Linked DNA regions of Homo sapiens: regions 1, 2, 3, 4, 6 and 7 are each reported to be linked to region 5. The links are microRNA targets in miRTarBase. Many come from high-throughput screens and were not tested one by one. Region 5 holds a microRNA gene; each other region holds the end of a gene's coding sequence.

Region 1 (3,263 bases), not on the chromosome of region 5:
AGCTAATACTAATGTAGAAAATATATTTTAAAGTCTAATTACTAATACATAGCCAAAGGAAACCCATAAACTTGATAATCCATAAGGAAACAATAGTAAAAAAATGTTTTGGGGCAGTCTGCAAAACAGCAATTTTGTTTAGGAAAAGTGGACTTTGTTATGCTTTTCTGCATGGCCAAATTATACCAGAAGATAATTCCATAGAGATGCAGCAATCACCTTTTTTAAAGATTTCATTAAATGAAGATATTCTTGTTTTCTGTGGTAGTCTTTATTATTATTTTTTAGCTATTGATACATAGCATGGCAGCAAGATTACATCAGTAATGTAATATAATACAGCTTTTTTCATTGAAGCTTTGTACCTTACTATACTCTAGGCTATTTGGAGTGTTCCCCCACTTGCACTAAAGTACAACTATGATGTCTCTACTGCCTCTCCCAGTGAAATATAAAAATATTGCACTACATTACAGATATAGTTTACAAATGTCATTAGCAGCATTACTGAGCTTTCTATAATTGTGGTCTACAGAGTTAAATACTTTTAAAACATGAGTAGATTCTTATAAAACCAAAGTTTTGCATTATTTCAACAGCTCTTTCAAATGCATCAGTTTCAGCAACATGCTTGGGTATCATGAAAACTTCCATGGTTTAATCAATAAACACCAGCTACTTACAAGTAGTCCACCTTCCAGGTTATCAATGGTAAGTTATTTTTTATAAAGTGGTTACACACTGAGCAGATTGCCTCAAGTGTAAGTTATGGAACAATACTTTAGCTTTCAGGGAATTTGGTGTGTAAATTCTTCTATAGCAGTGTTCTTTTAAAATAAGATCACGTGGCCGGGCGTGGTGGCTCACGCCTGTAATCCCAGCACTTTGGGAGGCCGAGGCAGGTGGATCACGAGGTCAGGAGATCGAGACCATCCTGGCTAACATGGTGAAACCCCGTCTCTACTAAAAATACAAAAAATTAGCCGCGCCTGTACTCCCAGCTACTCCGGAGGCTGAGGCAGGAGAATGGCGTGAACCTGGGAGGCGGAGCTTGCAGTGAGCCGAGATCATGCCACTGCACTCCAGCCTGGGAGACAGCGAGACTCTGTCTCAAAAAAAAAAAAAAAAAAAAAAAAAAAAAAAAAAAAAAAAGACATCACGCTTAAATAAGTAATGAAGTATACTGAGATGTTTTTGTTATAAACTTGGCTAAGAAAGGTATTTAGTACCTGAAATTTTCGCTTACTAAAGTAACAAAAGGCATGAGACTTGGCTATTGATTTTTAAAGTGGAATAACTTTTCTCCCCTCAAAAATGTCTTTCTTACTCATATAAATAATGCCTTTTACTTGTATATCTTTTTACTGTTCAAAGCACTTTTGCAGTTATGCTATTGTTTCCCTCACAACAATACTGTGAGGGAGGTAAAGTATTATTATTCCCATTTTAGAGATGGGTCCTTTTGTAACTGCCTATGCTTACACAGTTCATTAATGGAAGGGCTTGAACTTAAACTCTTTTATGGAGTCCTGGAGTCTAGACCTGGGCCCCAGTCCTTAATATTACACCATGCTTTTTCCTGCCAGCAATAAAAGCTGCTCCATCTAGTTTTAAACTCATGTCAGTTTCACTATATAGCAATCATCATAGCAGTTACCTACAAAGGGACAAACATATACTTGTCTATTTTATAGGTATATAACAGACCGAAACCATTAAGGTACCCCAACAACAGTCGAGCTTACTTGTTTTCCCTCAGTCAAATGTTACTGGGACCCGTAAAATGGACCCAGTGTGAGTATATCTTCATTTTCAGAGAACTGGTCCCAATTCCTATGTATGAATACTATTTTTGTCATTCTTTTCTTAATGAATACTCACTACAGAAGTATTCAGAATGATCACCATTCCTTTACAACTGTAAGACGCCAAAGCAAAAAGTATATTTTGCATGATTCCTTTCCTTCACAGAATACTCCTACATGAAAATGTTTTTTCTAAAACAAAACCAGCCCAAACTAGTTATCAACACAGTCATTTTAAAAAGAGTCCTCCAAAACTTTAAATACCCTTTCACATGCTTTATTTCCTATGGGAGAACTGATGAGGAAAATTATCATAAATGTTTAAACTTTTAATTATAAAATTTAAATTTCCATTTAAAAGGAAAGCATCAATATTTTAAAAGATTATATTTCAAAATGCTATGTTACTGTTTTTCAGTAATTAAGTCTTGTTATCCTCTCTACAAAATTCTTGACCAACTGCAATCTACATTTATTTCCTATTACATTGTCTTTCAATGTAAGCTCTTCAAATTAATCACCATATTTTTACCATACAGCTGCACAAAAGCTTTAGAAAAAAATTTCACAGAAGCATCGAAAGCAAGCAATATATGTAAAAAATTTTTTTTTACTAAATCAGCATAACAGACTAAAGCTGCAGCATCTGCTTTCATGTTACATTTGGCAAAAACAAAACAAAAAGCACCCCCAAACCCCCAAAATAACAAAAATCTCAAGCAAGTAGAGACGATAAACTTCATAACACAAAAGAAAGATTCAAAACCTGTTCCCTCAGTGATTGCTGTTGTCAGTTTGGGCATGCAGCAAATTTGTTATAACCATGATGGAAATGAAAATATTTTAAGAATCTAGACAGTATTCTATTTAACACTAATTCAAAAACCAAGAGGAAGAAAAATAACACAAGGGGACACCATACATACATAAACATGAAAAGCTAGCTTACATAATTACATAATTAGAAAAGTTAAATAATTTAGTAAAAATAAATTCCCAGTATAAACCCAAAAAAGCATAGCTATAAATGCAATCCAAAACAACCAATTAGTAAGCTGGTCATGTTTTTACTGGAAAACAACCTTTCTCATTTTTGTTCTTACACAAGCAAGTAACTGGAGAAGCAGGCCAGAGTGCATACGAGGATTTAAACATGGTTGTATCTGTGGTACTTTAGATGCAACTTTACCCTGTTCATTTGAAAGCTTAAATAGACCTGTCTGCTACACAGACTCGGATGGGCCAAATAAGTCATCTGATATGCTGCTGAATGGCTGAGAGTCTATTAGTTGGCTTATTTCATTATCAAGGTCTTCTTCTGTATCATCTGTGTACTTGCTTATTTTTTTGGAGTGCTGGTCTAAAGACAGACTTTCTAAAGTTTCTATATCTTCAATGCCTGCTCTGTAGTGAATCATAAGAAGTGTTAGAGCTTGTAGCCTTTCACCTGATTTAGCT
Region 2 (3,274 bases), not on the chromosome of region 5:
CAGTGCTATCTGTTCATTACCGTTTTGTCTCCTTAAAGAACTATCTAACATAGTGTTTCCCAAAATGTTCTCCACAGGACATTAGTGAGAGGTTCATAAGTATCCCAAAGGAGAAAAAGGTCCTGGTGTCAAAATAGTTTGGGCAATGCTGGGTTAGACAGTTTTTCACTACCGGATGCCAAGCCCTTACTGCGCTAAAGTGCATTGTAAGTTTCCAGGTGCAAACTTGGTTTCCCAGCAACACCATTTCTATAAAACACTGATGAACATCTCACAGAGCACTCATATTACATGGAGTGCTATGGGAAATGCTTTTCCCCATCCAGGTTACTGGCAATTCCACAATTTGGGCTTACATTCATTGTAATCCCAGAAATATTTTCTCCATTTACCCTCATGACTTTGTGAAATTTAACAGATTCCAGAAGGAAGACTCGAAGCCATCTCAGTTAACAGTTCTACACATTTCCCACTAGTTTTTGCCTTTGTTTTTCATGCATTTTCAGAGTGCACAACTTCCCTCCTCTCTTCTGAATCACTTAGGACATTCTCATTTTCAAAAACAGACTGCAGTTTCATGTTGTTTAATATTGTTTTTTTTTTTTAACTTGACCACAGTCTTCCCCTGAAGAAGGGCATGCATTTCATGTTACAGAAATGCGATAGAGTAAACTGTAATAAATTATTTACAAGCACCTAGTTTGTTTAACCTTATGTGGAAGCCATCACTGTTGGAAAACAATGAGAATGTATCTTTTAGCAAAACGGTGCTATCTGGAAGCTTCATTGTGAAGATGCTTTCGTTTTTTTGTTTTTTGTTTTCAGTCATGAGGCACTGAAGAATGAGTTGTGCTGAAATTAACTCAAAGGTCAGCTTGTCTGGATGAGCATAACTTTGGTTGAGATTTTTCTCCCTTAAAAAAGATTTTCAAAGCACCAGTTAATTACAAAAAGCATGCATATTTATCCTCACAGTGAGTTAAGTGGTGAGAGAGCTAGCAAATCATACATTGCATTCCCCAAAGCATCTGAACGTACTTCTAGAAAACAAACCAACCAAAAGGGAAAATAATGCAAGAGAAGCCGTATTTTCTTTGCTTAGGTTGGCAAAGCAGCAGCTCTTTGCAGCAATGACAGGCAGGGCAGAGTGTCGACTGGGAAGCGAGTCCCAATCTTGAATAATGGTGAGCTTGAGTAATCCTTAATTTACAATTTAAAGGATGAAAAAAAGAGACTAGTGAAATGTTTGCTTCCCCAGATAAGGAACACCCAAGACTCCCTGGGTATCCTCCAAATGTAGCCAAGAAAAGTGTTCTTCTACCCTAGTCAGTAAAATGGAATGCTAAAACATGATATCTCATTCAACATCAGAGCTACTACAACTGACAATGACTTCATGGTATACATCAATTCCTATAAAGAAAAAATATATTTTAAATGCAGAACTTGAGAGGGATCACAACAGCATAGCATTATTGCTATGAGTTTCAAACATGGTATTTCATACAATGTGAAATATCAATCAGCATCCCTCCCTCTCCCAAAACACACATTACTCATGAGATACTATCAGTGTTTAAAATCCAAGCTTATGGAAGTACAAACTTAATTCTCAGTACTTTTATACTAAATTCAAAGAATCTATGTAACACTCATCTGGAAAAATTCTTAATTCCATAATATCTTGGAGATAAGCAACAGTAAACTGTTAGAAAACGTTTTAACATTACATGATATTTAAAAAATCACCATAATTACCATAATAAACCAATAATTATGCTCCCTGCTCACAAAAGGCACCTACCAATTATGAACAGACCATTTTTCATAATTATTTACCACTATGTGGCATAAGGGTTTAGGCATATAACCCATAAAAATTTGTTAAAAGTCATGGTTTTTCCTCAAAGCTAAAAATCCATAAATGCCTCTAACCATTACCAGTCAGTAGGGCCACCACATGCATATACTGGACAGGTTGTGCACGGCACAACTCGAGTGGGTACCAGTCACCTGGACTGGGGTGCAGTACACAATCTGTGTGCAGTACAGAAAGCCCTCATCAGCTGTGGCCAGAGAACTGTATTCTAACAGTCTGTCAGCTCAAGCTAATCAAGTTAGGAAAACTGCTATTTGGTTGGAGGATTTCCAAGAAACAGCTGTACCTGTGAGAGGCAGGTATTACCTGAGGGGTGGACGAGGTACAGACATAAAACAGGAAGGGTTCTAAATATATTTGCTGGTCATTTGAAACTCAATGGCACTTGTTTATATGAGCAAAAGCCTTCAACACCAGTTTTCTGGCCAAGTTTCCCTAGAATTTTGCCAGCCAAATTAACTTCCTGATGTTAACTATTTGATTACAATATCTCAGTTCCCGACCTAAACTAATATTGTCTGTTTTCACATAGCTCTTAAAAACATTTCTAAATCTGACAGCAAAGGACAGCACAGTGATACCTGGGTGTGATATATATCAGTCCACTCAATTTATAAAGCACTTTGGGATAAAAGGTGCTCCCATTAAAAATGTAGCTACTATTGACAGATAAAACTGAAAAAGAGTGAATGGATGACTCAATTATTTTTAAAGGAAGCATTAACCACTAACCAGATAATATACCAACAAATTACCCAGCAGCACTAAGTATACCATGTAAGATTCAGTTCCAGAACACAGCTACATTTCTGTGTCCATCACAGTAATTAGTCCTTAAAAGTTGTACTTAAAATGTCAATCTTTAATAAACTCAAAAATAATTTATTGAGATTTCATCTTGTAGTCTACGGATTATGAGTTGCGAATAGAGGCTGAGGTCCCCCCAAGTGTTATCTGCAGGCTGCTGTGTTGATGCAGAGCTGGGAAGATCACAGATCCATGGAGGGAGAAGGCACTTGTCTTCCAGGAGATCACTTCGGGACAGGGCAGGCCTGACCCTGCGATGGCACCTTCAACTCTTGAGCCAGAAGCTGGTACCTACAAGGAACTCATCTCATGACCTTCATTTGCCAGCAGTGCCACACGTTACCTACAGCACCACAAAACTCAGAATATATTCTAGAAGTTTTTGTCGGTTGCATTGAGGTAGAAAAGTGCTGCTCAGTTCTAAAACAGACACTCTCTTTTGTTTGGTCTCCTTGAAAACCTAAAGAAAAGGTTTAGATTAAATTAAAGGCAAAAAATAAAAAATAAAAAAAATTTCCATTACCAACCTGACCTGTGGTGTCCTAGACCTCAGAAGGCAGTAAAGGCACAAAAAACCATATCCTGGCA
Region 3 (3,000 bases), not on the chromosome of region 5:
GGCCAGAATGGCAAAGCCTCTCTCCAGCAGCTATGTCATACTCATGTGGTATTAAGTTTCCAAGAAAAGTAGCAACAGGTGTACAGATGTCCTGAGAAACCTGTCCTACAACTGCTGCCAAGTGAGTACACGGTCCCTTACCATGGTGTTTATTCAACAATGAGGCAGACTCTAGGTCACTGGTTAAGTTGGGCATTGTGGAAGATGTTCTCCTGACCACAAGGGGATTTCAGTGCAAGCTAAAATAGTAATCTACAAAATTATACTCTATACACCAAGTAGCATTTACAGCCCTTAGTTCCTTCCACTGATGAGTGACTAACAAGTGTTTCTCTTCAGAGGTGGATTACTTTTCATGAGGCTTAAGTACCAATATGTTTATTGCATTTAAGGTATCACTTAATTGTCTAACTTCTAGAGGTAAGCAATTTACTCGCTATTTAATAAGTCAGCCTTCTTTTCATTTGCCACGGCAGTTTCATTGCTTGTAATTATTCACTGTGGTGTTCCCTTTAACTTGAATACTACTTAACAAGATTTCGTTAATATCAAAATATTGTTAAATATCAAAATATTCAAGAATGCTTAAAAATTAGCACTTTGGGAGGCCAAGATGGGCGGATCACTTGAGGTCAGGAGTTTGAGACCAGCCTGACCAACACGGCGAAACCCCGTCTCTACTAATATAAAAATTAGCCGGGCATGGTGGTGCACACCTGTAATCCCAGCTACTCTGGAGGCTGAGGTAGGAGAATCACTTGAATCTGGGAGGTGGAGGTTGTAGTGAGCTGAGATCATGCCACTGCACTCCAGCCTGGGTGACAGAGTGAAACTGTGTCTTGAAAAATAAAAAACAATGTTTAAAAATTAAATGTGTTTTCTTAGAACTGGCTGGTTCACATATTACCTCACCAAATAGATATTTGGCCTCACTTTGTATACTCTCTAAATGGATTCATGTTAAAGACATACTCCTACAGTTCTAAATTTGAATGAGACCCTTAGAGAAATTCAGACACTAAGTCCTTGGATAATATAAGTGATCAATGTCAAGGTGAGAGTTGAGAATGGTTTTTAAGAAATGCAATGACCATTCCATATACCAAAGGGAATTCTTTATTGTAAACAAGATATAAAGTACAACAAAAGAAATATTGTGCAAATTGTAAGTCACAAGGATTTTTTTTAATTAAAACTTTTGTTTTCCAAGGGTCCAAGTTTTGATGTCAGAAATCTACACCCAATATACAAAAACAATGTTAAATGGGAAGATATAGTGACATTTTTCACTATATATTTTAAGCAATGTACTTTTGTTTTGCCACTGTGTATATCATCCACTATATAACAGAATAAAAGAGAAATACTGTTAACAAAAGTGAATGTTCTAATAATTTTTCTACCCAACTACCTCCACATCCCCAAAAAACGCCTATAAATTAACAGGACAACATCAACATTTGTCCACCTGTGAATAATGGTCACTAATTTTCTAATTCAATAAAGCACACATTATATCCTCATAACATAAAGGTACTTTACTGATGACATAAGCCATCTTTTTCAAGAAGTTATCTAAGATTCTTAATATCCCTTCTTTACAATATATATTTCATCTTCAGTTTTTTTTCTAAACAAAGTGCAGTGTATCTTAGAGTCTACAGAAAACACATTGGTATACAATTTTCAAATCTACACAAGAAACTGCAGGCAAACTAAAGTTCAAAGCATAATGAAATGCCTAGATACAGTCATTTGTTAAACTTTCAAAACAAAAATGCAAAAACAAATTGTAGCTATGCTTCAAAGCAATTAAATTAAGGAGGATTCCAATTCTTTGGGCCCTCTTAGCAATATACAGTCGTTCAATTCCAAATATTCACAATAGTGTAAAAATGATAGTTCTAGATATATTTAATCACTACATCCACGATGTTGACTGGAAAGACTAGGAATAATAAAGAAGATAACTCTAGAAAAAGATGACAATATTTGTAATAATACAAACTCATTTTACATCTCCATGTCTGTACCGTAATGTTTATTTCCTTCCAGCCTCCATATTCTTGAAACCAGTGCTTTAGAAGAATCACATTGAAAAGTTGGTCTCAAGTATAAACAGCAAAAGTAAAGTAACAAATATGCACACAGATTCAAAATCTGTGCTACCTGTGTTGACCTCATCTGAAACCTTCAAAAAATATTCAAAGGAATAAAAGCTTTCTCATCTCTCTTATGTGATAAGAAATGAAACCTGCCTTTCTGTGACCTGCCTGTGGCCGAAGCCCTTTTAGTCACCTAACCCAGGCGGGGCCTTCGTGCCAGGCTGTGGGGCTTCTGCTTTAAGCCCACGTTGTGGGGCCACAGACTTGCAGTGGAAGCATTTTTACATCACCACTGGCTCCCGCTGAGACCAAAGTTAGTTCTGACTCTTCACTTTCCGGTCTGTCACTGTGTGGGAGCAGGGGTTGGAGGTAGAGCAATGTCATTTAGCTTGCTCACTTCCATCTGCCAGTTTGGTAGCTTCTTGGCTGATAGATGGCGCCGGGCATGCTTGGTCAAATGGTCACTCCTCATGAACCGCCGGTCACACATGGGGCACGCAAATTTCTTCTCACCCGTGTGGGTTCGCCTGTGTCTGGACAGTTCATCAGAACGGGCAAACCTCCTTTCACAACCTTTCCAGCTACAGCTGAAAGGCTTTTCTCCTAAAACAAAGACATACAAATCATTATTATGCATAAGATTGCCGTAAATTATATGTTCAATTCTGTCTAAAAGTATATGAGAAGATACATTTTAAATAATAAAAGCTAATAAATCAAACTGTCAAATGAATATGAGATATGTATTGCTCCAATTTCAACTTGTCACTTGATCACATTTACAAAACTCTTCCCCACATGAAATAAGGCAGCCGGGTGGAGTAGTAGGCACCTGTAGTCCCAACTACTCAGAAGGCTGGGGCAGGAGGATAGCTTGAGCCCAGAAGTTTGAGAC
Region 4 (3,000 bases), not on the chromosome of region 5:
GGACACTTTGAATTGAGGAAAAATGGCACCATGCCACGAGAGGTGGCCAGAGACCCGCAGCTATGTGAAAAACTGACTGTTCTGTGCTCAGCTCCAGGAACTCTAAAAACACTCGCTCGCTATGCCGTGCGCCGTAGCCTGGGACTCCAGTATCTCCCCGATGCAGTGAAGGGCCTTCCACTGCCAGCTTCTTTGAAGGAATACCTGTTACTTTTAGAATAGCCGGAGAAGATGTTTGCACCATCGTGCAGGCAGCTCTGGGTGAGGTTGTCCCTGCAGTACTCCTTGTCACAGAAAACAGAAAAACAGTTGTTCCTGTTGTGTGGTTTATAGATTTCGAAGCAACATGTCACAACAATAACCTCCATAGCACCTCCCCTTCCCAAACCAAACAACCCAACAAAAAAAATCCCTCACTTTTGTTTTCTGTTTATTGCTTACCTGGCTTTTTATATTGCATTTTGCAAAAGAAGAGGTCTCCCTCAATCCTCCCCTTTAGGGAAGGAGTCAACAGTGTAACTAAATTTCTCTAGGAAGATGGAAAGTACTTAAATAATGTGTGTGTGGTTTTCCTTTGGGGACGTGGTTAACGGTCCAGAAGAATCCCTTCTAGAAAGCATTTTAGGCCAGCCATGGTGGCTCACGTCTGTAATCCCAGGACTTTGGGAGGCTGAGGCAGGTGGATCACCTGAGGTCAGGAGTTCGAGCCCAGCCTGACCAATATGATGAAACCCCGTCTCTACTAAAAATACAAAAATTAGCTGGGCATGGTGGCATGCGCCTGTAATCCCAGCTACTCAGGAGGCTGAGACAGAAGAATCGCTTGAACCTGTGAGGCAGAGGTTGCAGTGAGCCAAGATCGCGCCATTGCACTCCAGCCTGGACAACAAGAGCAAAACTGTCTCAAAAAAAAAAAAAAAAAAAAAAAACCATTTTAATTGATCTGTGAAAAAACTTAAGAAAATCACAATTTCAGCTAACAGCAATTGTGTCCCAAAGATGAAGATACTATAACCTCAAATGGTGCAGATCCAGAACTGGGCTGGATGACATCCCTACTGTGCCATGTCCTGGGGCATTTGGAAGGGACTGGACCTCTTTCCCCTCATCAAAGGAAACAGCAGTCTTTGCCTCTTTCTGTTGGTTGTGCCCAAGGGCTACAGTAGCTCTGAAATAACAAGAGCTCTGTAATAACAGTAATAAATAGCTCTGAAATAACAGTCCTAAGAACTCCTAAAGTCCTGAGAACTTTTCTTGTAATGCAGCTTTTTCTCTTCCTGAGAAACAGTGTGTTCTAATGGGATTCCCAGGCAGTTCCTACACCTACGGTGTGTGTTCCAGCAGGGAGGAGTTATGGGCTGGGCTGCCTTTTCCCATGGGTCTTCATTCCCAATGGAAAGTTCACTCTGCTTAGTTTGGAATTATTTTTCTTTCAGTTGTTCTGGAACCTTTGCTTTTTATTGATTTATACAATACAATTGGTGGGAGGGTGGACTTGGGATGGGAGTGGGAAAAGCATGTAAGAGCTCCTTTTGTGATGGTCCATCTACCCAAAAGAGATCTGCTTTAGTGAACGATACTCTTTCATTTTTCTAAATTAGATCAAGTTGTTATTGATTTTAGATGACTTGTATGCAAATTTGAAAAACTTTTTTTTTTAAAGCTGATTGGGAACTACAAACAATGAATGGAATCTACTGACACAGCTAATTGGAAAACAGATGTCTTCTTCTGTCCTATTGATGCTGGTGTTTAAAAAACATCACTTAAAAAAAAAGAATAAATAGTTCTAAAAGCAAGTTTGGCAATTTCTACTTTTCCTACTTTTCTCCAACCCCCCTTAGAAAAAGTTCTTCGTTTACTGCCTGGCTGTTCTATGTAACTTTCCATCCCAACCTTTCTCCCATTAGCAGCAGTGATTCTGGGCATTGCTGGAGTGAACAGGAGGGCTTGGGCAGAGTATCTGAAGAGCTTCCCCTTCCTTTATACCTTCTCCCACCCCAAATTTGGAATTACTGCTTTTATGTTCTCAACTCCAGCTGCACATAAAATCACTAAGGAAGCTTTTTAAAAACACTGGTGCCAAGATTTCACCTCATACCAATTCTTTGGAATTTTCTGGGGTAGGACTGGGGGCTTCAGTGCTTCAAATATAGCCAGGAATGAGATTCCACTGTGTTAGTCAGTGGTTCTCAATCCTAGTTATTAATTAGAACCACCTAGGAAAATTTTTAAAAATACTAAAGCCCAGGCTCCACCCCCAGAGATTGATTTAATTGGTCCAAAGCAGACCTAGTAGGGCTGGCCACAGTGGCTCACGCCTGTAATCCTCACACTTTAGGAGGCCGAGGTGGGAGGATCATTTGAGACCAGGAGTTGAAGTCCCCATCTCTACAAAAAAATAAATGAATAAAGTAGACCTGGGCATGAGTACGTTCAAAGGTCCCAGGTGATTCTAATATTCTGGTAGATTTATAAACTGCTTGAGATGCTACTTCATTTCTCATCATAGATACTTAATATTCTAGAAAGAGAAAGTTTTGTCCATGTGGGAAAAAATGTTACCTGTTTCTCAGTTACTTCATAATCACTTATGTGGTTGGTGGCTAATAAATTCTGCTTCACCTCCACTTAAGAGTTCAAACACAATTTCACTTATCTTTTTAGCTCTGGGGAAATAGCATGCACCTTCATAGGTTTTTTTTGTTTGTTTTTAAGTGGTCTTCACTATGCCTTTTTTTCCCAGATCGTATCATCATCCTAAATTTTTTACTCTTTACAGAGTGACATTTTCCCTCTGATTAACTTTCCCTGAGCCATCCTTCCCTCTTCATTTTCTTGAGGAAACAGCTCTAAGATTAAAGACAGGAAAGAGACAGAGAACCTATAAATCAATGGCAATTAGCATTTAAAATGTTCTGAATGAATGCCTGAACCTTCCCTTTCACTTTGTTTTCATAGGCCTTATGGCTCTGGGGATTTGATATGGCATGATAAGGA
Region 5 (3,326 bases):
ATTCATAGCACAAGTGTTTTATACAAGTAATTACTTTCTTAAAAATTTAACTTTTATTTTAATTTCAAGGGTATGTTTGCAGGTTTGTTATATATGTAAACTTGTGTTATGGGGTTTGTTGTACAGATTATTTCATCACCCAGGTATTAAGCCTAGTACCCATTAGCTAATTTTTCTGATCCTCTCCCTCCTCCCATCCTCCACCCTCTGATAGGCCCCAGAGTGTGTTGTTTCCCTCTATGTGTCCATGTGTTCTCATCTTTTAGCTGCCACTTATAAGTGAGAACGTAGTATTTGGCTTTCTGTTCCTGTATTAGTTTGCTAAGGATAACAGCCTGCAGCTCTATCCATGTTCCTCCAAAAGACATGATCTCATTCTTTTTTATGGCTGCATAGTATTCCATGGTGCATATGTACCATATTTTCTTTATCAAGTCTATCATTGGTGAGCATTTACTTGATTCCATGTCTTTGCTATTGTGAATAGTGCTATAATGAACATATGCATGTATATGTCTTTATAATAGAATGATTTATATTCCTTTGGGTAAATACCCTGTAATGGGATTGTTGGGTTGAATGGTAGTTCTGTTTTTAGGCCTTTGAATAATAAATAATTTCTTAATACTTATTCGGCACTAAATTCTACTTAACTGGTTAATTGAATTTCATTGAGTTAAATTGAAACATTTGGAGTGCTCTACCCTATAGAAGTCACTAAGTATTGTTAATAAAAACCAAATACTAATCCTCTTTCCATCCCGGGGCCTTTACCCTTGCTTTGTCTATGACTGCAACATTTTCCCTTAAGACTACGGCTCTGATAAATTATCCAGTCCACTACTCAAAATGTCACCTCTTCAGAGTACTTTTCTGAACAACCAAAATGAAAGCAAATACATACTCTGCACAAACTATCTCCTTATCCTGTTTTACTTTCTTCATGAAACTTACTATTATGTGACTTTATATTACATCATATATTAATGTATTTATTAGTTTATGTATACCCACACAGATTTCATTGCAGCAGGGAACTTGTCTGCAACCCCAGAGGCAAAATGAAATGTATTACTTGGATAGTGTATTAGTCAAATGATTTGCACTGATTATGATCTTTTGTGACCTTAAGCAAATCACAGTAGCCATCTACTATCAGTTTACCTCCACATAAAATGGAGGACCCCAATATCCCTGTTAGTTTCGGCATATAATTGGTATAGGATCTTATAGAACCTCTTTTTTTTAGCAATTCATGCTACAATTTTATTTTTATTTTTATTTTTTGTGGGTACTTAGTAGTTGTATATAGTTATGGTATACAAGACATATTTTGATACAGGCATGTAATGCATAATACTCAAGTCATGAAAAATTGAGTCTCCATCCCCTCAAGCATTTTATACCTGGGTACTCTCAATGTTTCTCTCTGCTATGAAAGGAAAGTTAGCTTTCAAGATATTATCTGATGATACAAGATTTTTAGAAAACAATAGACTTCACAGGGCATGTTATGTCTTCCTTTGACACTAAAGAGATCTAGTCTTGTTCCTGGCCCTCAGTGACTCATCCCCTTTTTCTGTAGTAGGAGCTCTCCTGGCTTAAAGTAAGGCTAATAGAGGGGTCAGGTCAGGATTGAAGAGAAGAAAAACAAGTTCTGTGGCTCTCTTGAGGTTGACCCAGAAGGGTCATTAATGCAGACATTGACTAATATCTATGGGTAAGATCAACAGTGAACCTGCATCTGAGACATGCACAGGCCCAGGAAGTGATACTTTTGATAAGTCTTCATTGGCACTTCTGAGGTCGCTGAGGATGGAGATCTGTGCCATTTACTGGACAGAGCAAGCCCATAAGAGCATGACATTGGAAGTCTATGTAAAAAGACTTCAGATCATCCTCCTCATTTTAGCTCACCATCTAGCAAGTTCAAGAATGGCACCTCTTCCCAAAAGTTGAAGCAATAATTTGGCCTCTCTGGTATTTAGAATTTCCTGAATTAACCCCAAAACAGTTGAGTCCTGAGAACCATTGAGAACCAGTTTTCCCAGGATTAACTGTTCCGAGAGATAAAAACTATTTTAGTAAGAACTTAATTTCCAAAGGCAAATTTCCCTGCTCCCTGTTCATCCCTCACATACACATTTCAAGTCAATGCAGTCTTTTCAAAAGAAAATCAAACCAGGACAATTGCCTCTGATATAATTGGTTTAAGGAGGAGAAGTAGATTTCTAATCTGAGGCTGTATAAATGTATCCCACTTTTTCAAACTGGTTATCATACTTTCTGAAATTCCACCATTGGGTTTTATTGCTTTAGATTAAGGCACTGCTATGTCTATAAATTGTTTAGGTAACAAATTCTTATAAGCCATTGCCCCTTCTTTTCTCGTATCTTTCATCTTTTGTTCCATGGCCTTTTTTTTGGTTTATGTCCTCAGTCTCAGGACCCCTTTGTCTATAACAAACAAATGGGTAACAAAAATCTCTGCCTGACATTCTAAATTCTTGATCAGTTTATCACCTTTTATTCCCAGTCAAATATATAAAACACATAATTTGCATCATTTTTACTCTCTCATCATTCCTTTCCTTCCTAACTTCCTCCAAACTGCTTCTTTTTCCATCTTCCCTACTCTACCCTTACCACACCATTCCAGCCTTCTTTCCAACTTATCTTTCCAAAGGCTCTAATAAATTTTATCTACTCTCACTCTCCCAGTTTTTTTCATTTGTTTGTTTTTGAATTTTGAACACTTTTGACACTGTCTATTGATTCAACCCAAACGTCCAACAATGATAGACTGGATTAAGAAAATGTGGCACATATACACCATGGAATACTGTGCAGCCATAAAACATGATGAGTTCATGTCCTTTGTAGGGACATGGATGAAATTGGAAATCATCATTCTCAGTAAACTATCACAAGAACAAAAAACCAAACACCGCATATTCTCACTCATAGGTGGGAATTGAACAATGAGAACACATGGACACAGAAAGGGGAACATCACACTCTGGGGACTGTTGTGGGGTGGGGGGAGGGGGGAGGGATAGCATTAGGCGATATACCTAATGCTAAATGACGAGTTAATGGGTGCAGCGCACCAGCATGGCACATGTATACATATGTAACTAACCTGCACATTGTGCACATGTACCCTAAAACTTAAAGTATAATAATAATAAAAAATGTATATATTCAATGCCCACTATGTGCCACACATTCTCCTCCTTTCTAAAATATATTTTGTTCATTGTCTTTTTTTTCCTTCCTTCCACACTCCCTCCCTTTTTCCCTCCCTCATTCTCTCCCTCCCATCC
Region 6 (3,326 bases), not on the chromosome of region 5:
TGTATCGTAAGAAAACCAAACATGTTTATAGATGGGAGTATGTCTCAATTCCTTTGAAATATAGCCTCTTCTCCATAAGAAATTATTATAAAGAAAATATGAAATGTGTATTAGATCATTGCTTAGTCAGCTTAATAATCCAAAATGTGTTCAAAATGAAACACTGCTTCTGACTTTAGTATTCATCTTTGCATTTTAGAAGCAAATAAAATAAGTGAAAATATTTTTTCCCTGCTTTCACTGAGTATGGATTATGGATCTGAGAGAGCAATTTTTTGTTGTTGTTGCTAAGCATTAGAAGGATATTACACGAGAAACAGTGCCGAGTCAAGTTCTTAGACAGACTGATGAAAATGAGGGAAGAGGCCCGAGAAATGCATAAGTACAAGCTTCATATCACTCATTCTGTTAATAAAACATGTGGCTATAATAAAACAGAATCACACCCTACATATGGGAGGGAGGGTGAGAAATCATGAAATCAGCAAAGGGCTGATGAGATGGACCCACATTGGGCTCGGTACAGTAAAACATCACAGTAAGATCAGACACATCCAGATGCCTCACCAGTTAAGATGAGCTCAGAAGACCTTGCCTTTCCCCATGCACCGAGACACCATGCAATCACCAACAGCTACTGGTGGGTGTGGTGGAAAAAATGTGAAGGTCATAGATTTGCACCATCTTTTGGTAAAATAAGACAGAAAGGGTCGCACATGCTTTGCCTCTTTGGTAATGAGTCAAGCAACCTCTGTTTTTATTTTGTTGTCATGGAGATAGAGGCCCAGCAGTGGGAATTCTAGGGACACACCAGGGTGGTGCCCGGATGCCTGGGATCCATCTGGATGTATACAGAAGAAAGTCAAACTACTTTAGGTGTAAAGCGCCTGGCTCTGGGAATCACATGGCTTCTCTAGGAGCTTGCTAATTTAGCACCGGGGAGGAAGCAAAATCCTAGGGGCATGGAGCATCCACATGTCTTTTAAACAAAACGAAGTTAGAATTTTTACTAATGACATTCTTTTTATATGATTTCAGAAGATAAAAAAAATTCCAAATGCTTAAGATATACAACAGGGAAAAGGGAATTGTTTTTTATTTAATCTGAATTATAATTTTCCCATTAAAATCTATCCATATTAAGTGGGGGGCACAAAATAATACCAATTATTTTTTAAAGTTTCAGCTGTTCAGTTTCAGGATAGCTCTGAAAATACAATTTAGTTTGAAATTCAAGCTGTTTCATTTCCTATTAAATCTTGTAAATTTCCTTCCCCTACAATACTCAGGTTGGAAGGGTGCCAAATTAGACCAGGAACAAATTTTCACCAACTTCACTTCAATGCTTTATTTTTAGATGATATTAAAAACCTCATTAGGCTCCCTGAGGGAAAAGAGTGTTAACCACTAACAGAGGCAGGGGAAAAATAAAGGAAACAGAAAGATAAGCTAAATTGTTAACAAGGAAAGCTCCTCAGTTGGTCTGAGGATGCTGTACAAGCTAAAAGAAACTTATTACCAAGACCAGGTAAATGACTTGAGGTTGGAGCTTAATCTTTTACCCTCAGGCTAGTAAGGACTAGTCAGGTTTGTCAAAGTGGCATATGTCTTTATTATGATTTCCAGATGGGATCTGGTGGGAGGCGGGTGGGTAGAAGGGAAGGCAGAGAAACCTTTAAAGATTGTAAGCTAAGTGCTCTATACCTTTATACAATACCAATGTGCTTGAGTCTCCCGTTAAGAGGCTGAAAACTGGGCAGGCATACGCAAGACTGGGTGCGAGATTCAATGGAATGTCAAATGAAACTTAGAATTTATTAATGTATTTACATAATTTATAATCTTTAAGCAATGGCCCCATAAATATAGACTACAACTTTACATATGCTAAGCAATAGATACTTGCTTTTCCCCACCAAAATACTTGGGTTAAAAAAAAATTGACAGCATTTATACCACCTTCTTCACTTCCACTCTTCTTCCTTTTTAAACCATTGCTAGTCATTTTAGAACATATGAAATTCAGTTTATTCCGGGCAGCTTCTCTACCATCACCATCTTGATCATGAGAGCTTATTTAAAAAGGTGCCAATAACGTGTTTGGTGGCACACACATGACAAGGTCAGAAGCAAACCCAGGATGAGCTAGGCATCTGCTGCTATCATTGTTAATTTACTGTACGTATCCTAGGCTAACATGTTCAATGAAAAGTGCTTTAGAGATGGCAGAGATGAAATCATTTCCATCAGTCCTATAAATAACCCATTTTAGCTTCAGACAATAATTGTCCTCCCTACACTTAAACTATCCTACTATATGTTAAATGATACAACTCCCTCTAACAGTGGTAACAGAAACCAAGGAAATTATAATCTCCACAAGGTCTGTTTCTTTTCCCTTAAGAACCACAAAAGTGCTAATTTTCCCTTTACAAATGTTACATAAAATCTTGATTACAAAACTACTCAACAACTTAATCCTACCATCCATACAATTATATGTTCCTTTTCAGCAAGGTCAAAAGCCAACGATGTAGTCCCTTTGTACACTAGAGATTCTTTACATAATAGAAGTTCACAGACTGAAATATCATTGCTGCAGTCTTTGGAGAACAGAACTGGTCCATTTCTGTGAATCCTTTTTGCACGGAGAAGACTCAAGACTGGCTAGGTGAAAACTGGTGGCAGGGACCCCAGCCCTCCTGTTAACTTTCAGGACCACCTACTTCATCATCAAGTCTGAGAGGCTGAGGTTCGGTCAGCAGCAGCTCCGCTTTGGCTCTGAAGGCTGTCTTCGGAGTTTGAAGCCCTTACCGCCAGATGGCAGGTTGGCGTCAGTGGATGGAATTCTTCGACCTAAACCAAGATGAGAAAAGGGAAGGGAGTGAGCTTTAACTTTCTCAGACACAACAATTTTGCAGATGCAATTTGACAGGTTTCACTGAAGTAAAAAAAAAAAAAAAAAAGTTTAATAAACTTTTTATACTCGAATAATTTTAGATTTATAGAAAAGCTGCAAAGATGATAGAGCTCCTGTGTACCTCCCACCCAGTTTCCCCCAGTGCTGACATATTACCATGGGACATTTGTCAAAATGAAGAGTTCAACATTGCCACATCACTATTAACTCCAGACTTTTTTCAGATAGCATCAGTTTTTCTACATGTCCTGCTTCTGCCCCAGGATCCAAACAAGGATATCACACAGCACTTAGTAAACGTTTTTTAATTAAAAAAAGCCACACATCAAAAACATTTTGTTTTGAGTAGGTAATACATAGGATTTGTTTTTTAAAAAGTTCAGTCAGAACATGGTTGTCCCTCTGT
Region 7 (3,000 bases), not on the chromosome of region 5:
CAGTGGAGAAAAGTTTTACATATTCTCACCTGTATCGTAATTATAGTTCCGGATTCGAAGGGAAAGTACTCGTCTGCCTTGGGGGTCAAAAGGAGGATAAAATGAGGTATATACAGGTTGAGTCTACCTACTACCAAAATCCATAATCTGAAATGCTCCAAAATCTGAAGTTTTTTTTGTGTGCTCACATGAGGCTCAAAGGAAATGCTCATTGGAGCATTTTGAATTTTGGATTTTCAGATTAGGGATGCTGAACTGGTAAGTATAATGCAGATATTCCAAAATCTAAAAAAATTCAAAATCTGAAACATTTCTGATCCCAAGCATTTCAGATGAGGGATACTTAACCTGTAGCTACTTAAGGAATGTTTTTTTATGCACTCATATTGTGCCACAAAATTTCTCACTACACCAGGGATGGCAGTAAGTGAAAGAGTCCCTGTATTTCCATGTGTTATACTTTGAAAAGTTATTGACTGAGTTTAACTCATGTAATGCAATTTTTCCTCCAAAGGAAAACCAACTCTACCAACAATCACAAAGATAAAAACTTGCGCCAGAGAAACACAAATTAAGTACTGCTTACAATGTAAGTATGGCCTTCTGTAGCAGTCTTAAAAATTATATTCAAATGAATGTGCCTCTATTGACCTTGTTACAAATTCTTCAGTAATTGGTGTTATAAGATATTTTAGTTCATTTCAGAGCAGCTGATACTGATGAAGCCAGTTCTGTCTGCCCAGTTTAGGGACTGGAAAGGAACATTTTTCAGCTGCGTTGTTTTTTGTTGTTGTTTGGATTTTTTAAGATGGAGTCTCACTCTATTGCCCAAGCTGGAGTGCAGTGGTGTGATCTCGGCTCACTGCAACCTCCGCCTCCCGGGTTCAAGCAATTCTCCTGCCCCAGCCTCCTAAGTAGCTGGGATTACAGCTGCCCACCACCATGCCCAGCTAAATTTTGTATTTTTAGTAGAGACGGGGTTTCATCATGTTGGCCAGGGTGGTCTTGAACTCCTGACCTCAAGTGATCCGCCTGCCTCAGCCTCCCAGAAGTGCTGGGATTACAGGCATGAGCCAGTGTGCCCCGCCATCAGGTGCATTGTGTCACATGTTTATATAAATGCCATTTCAGAAGACATATTTTAAAATCAACACTTTTCACTACTATTATATCTTTACAAAGAGGTGAAAATTGTCACCTTCTTAGGTGGCTTATTCCCAGAGGCCTACTAGTCTTACCTCACGTCTGGGGGCAAGACAAGAATGGCCAGGTAGCAGCAGGGCCAGAATGTCATCTTGTTAGGCATATGGAGATCAGAATTTCACACCACATCCCTGAGCGTGCTGTTTGAACCAAAGTTTTGTGTGGCACACGGTGTAGTTGTGAGTGACAGTGCATAATCCCTTTATAATTTCCAAATACATATTTCTTTACAGATCTTTAGGTTCCTGAAACTGGTGGCAACATGACCTGCTAAAATTTTCTGCTTGGACCTCTTTGGTTCTCTCCCCTTTCAAGTGAGCAACACCACAATGACTGTCTAAAGCATGCCTTATTTAGCCTCTCCTGTAAGGGTGATCTAGCCAGGTACATTTTAAACAATGCTTCAGTGTAGAAGGTGTAAACTATTTTGGGCTTGATGTGCTGTGAATGTTGCTTTTTTTTTTCCTTTGTTAAAATATTTAAATAGAAGTGAAAAGGTCCTCTGAGGATCAGATCATGCATGCGCCATTTTTTACTTAATGCAGCTGTTAAATTGGCAAAGCTCTAAAATGCACTGCTGCCATCTAGTGATACACTTTTGTAAAGTACAGCAAAACCTACAGATATATACAGTATATAAATATATATATATATATATTTATATTTTTGGGGGTGGGAGAAATCCAAAATAAAGTAAATGCTTGTTTCATTTTTAAGCTGCTGATATTCATTCCTTATTGTATGTTGTCAGATGAGGAAATTGTGCAGTTCTGGTACATAAAGATGAGTAATATAAACTGAAATCTATAATTTTAAGGGCTTAACCTGTGACTTTAATAAGCTGGAACAGTCCACTGAATGGGTATAATGAATTGCAGTATATACGTATGATTGCTTTTTAAGTGATTATCTTTTCTTCTGTTAAGTCATGTAAATTCATAAATCCTTTTGCACTGATGTGTTGAACCTTATTCTTGTACATTCATTCAATCAAGGCAAACTTTTATAATTTTTCTTTTGTTTCCAATGACCTTGAAATGTTATAGCATGGTAATATTCTATGCAACTATAGTTATACTTTTTGGTTTGACACTGTATTTTTTCACATTGATTTACTGGTTGATGATAGATTTTATAACCTAACGGTTCTCATGCGGTGCGTAATTGTAGATGCATGTACTTGTGTGTTTTGTGTAATTATTGAAGTGCAATGATGTATAAAAAAGTGGATTCACCTGTTTTTAAAAATAAAACATTGATAAAAGGTGTTTGGATAATACTCTTTATTCTAATATCTTCTTTAATTTTAGGAGGAAGCATTTTTCAATACTTTGAAGTTCCTTAGTTATATATGTATATAGAGCATTAATTTCTCAAACCCGCCAGCTTTTTCAGTTCCTTTTCTACCTCTTCCACAAATGCTGGGAAATTCTGATCCATAAGGCACAAACGTAGGAAGGGGCCTAACTCTTCTGCACCCCATGCAGATTGTTCATAGACATGGGGCAGCTCCTCCGATGCCAGAAGAGTCTGCAGGGATACCAGAAAAGTCGTTACAGATTACAGGTAAAAGCAATACCTGGCTAATAGAACACAGGCAAATAGTGCTTTAAGGAAAGATTAGCGAAATACACACCAAAAAAATTAGTGTTAATTAGCTTTACAGGCTTCCTTTACATAGTTTTACTGTTACATTTACAATTTTGTATATTAATATGTATTCTGAATACACATAGCATGTGAGATAATCTTGTTGCCCTAAGGAAAGAATTTCAAATGTACTGATGAAATGTTTGC

The links. Region 5 holds the annotated microRNA hsa-miR-4328 (CCAGUUUUCCCAGGAUU, at 2,039-2,055, shown strand). A microRNA usually pairs through its seed, bases 2 to 8, with sites in the 3' UTR of a target mRNA and lowers its output. Matches are read on the target gene's strand: a 7mer-m8 pairs with bases 2 to 8, a 7mer-A1 pairs with bases 2 to 7 and ends in A, and an 8mer does both.
Region 1: the mRNA of PDZD8 is a reported target of hsa-miR-4328. Seed matches in the 3' UTR shown: 7mer-A1 at 2,596-2,602, 7mer-A1 at 1,622-1,628 and 7mer-A1 at 614-620.
Region 2: miRTarBase lists GPAM as a target of hsa-miR-4328. Seed matches in the 3' UTR shown: 7mer-m8 at 2,294-2,300 and 7mer-m8 at 159-165.
Region 3: miRTarBase lists KLF10 as a target of hsa-miR-4328. Seed matches in the 3' UTR shown: 8mer at 1,619-1,626.
Region 4: the mRNA of ASB8 is a reported target of hsa-miR-4328. Seed matches in the 3' UTR shown: 7mer-m8 at 895-901.
Region 6: miRTarBase lists RAB22A as a target of hsa-miR-4328. Seed matches in the 3' UTR shown: 7mer-A1 at 2,023-2,029 and 7mer-A1 at 1,191-1,197.
Region 7: miRTarBase lists NPTN as a target of hsa-miR-4328. Seed matches in the 3' UTR shown: 7mer-A1 at 1,998-2,004.

The regions. Positions count from the first base shown.
Region 1 is chr10:117,280,240-117,283,502 of GRCh38, forward strand. It overlaps PDZD8 (PDZ domain containing 8), which reads right to left. Exons shown (of 5, transcript NM_173791.5): 5 at 1-3,263. The coding sequence ends at 3,029. Among named protein-coding and RNA genes, the nearest start is that of SLC18A2-AS1, 40 kb to the left of the region's middle.
Region 2 is chr10:112,150,521-112,153,794 of GRCh38, forward strand. GPAM (glycerol-3-phosphate acyltransferase, mitochondrial) reads right to left here. Exons shown (of 22, transcript NM_001244949.2): 22 at 1-3,146. The coding sequence ends at 3,030. Among named protein-coding and RNA genes, the nearest start is that of GPAM, 32 kb to the right of the region's middle.
Region 3 is chr8:102,647,684-102,650,683 of GRCh38, forward strand. It overlaps KLF10 (KLF transcription factor 10), which reads right to left. Exons shown (of 4, transcript NM_005655.4): 4 at 1,101-2,708. The coding sequence ends at 2,449. Among named protein-coding and RNA genes, the nearest start is that of KLF10, 6.5 kb to the right of the region's middle.
Region 4 is chr12:48,146,588-48,149,587 of GRCh38, reverse strand. It overlaps ASB8 (ankyrin repeat and SOCS box containing 8), which reads left to right. Exons shown (of 4, transcript NM_024095.5): 4 at 1-1,799. The coding sequence ends at 222. Among named protein-coding and RNA genes, the nearest start is that of ASB8, 9.4 kb to the left of the region's middle.
Region 5 is chrX:78,899,933-78,903,258 of GRCh38, reverse strand. It overlaps MIR4328 (microRNA 4328), which reads left to right and starts at 2,010; the gene lies at 2,010-2,065.
Region 6 is chr20:58,359,136-58,362,461 of GRCh38, reverse strand. RAB22A (RAB22A, member RAS oncogene family) reads right to left here. Exons shown (of 7, transcript NM_020673.3): 7 at 1-2,856. The coding sequence ends at 2,759. Among named protein-coding and RNA genes, the nearest start is that of VAPB, 28 kb to the left of the region's middle.
Region 7 is chr15:73,559,485-73,562,484 of GRCh38, reverse strand. It overlaps NPTN (neuroplastin), which reads left to right. Exons shown (of 9, transcript NM_012428.4): 8 at 515-589; 9 at 1,437-2,471. The coding sequence ends at 575. It overlaps REC114 (REC114 meiotic recombination protein), which reads right to left. Exons shown (of 6, transcript NM_001042367.2): 6 at 2,472-2,733. The coding sequence ends at 2,569. Among named protein-coding and RNA genes, the nearest start is that of NPTN-IT1, 8.6 kb to the left of the region's middle.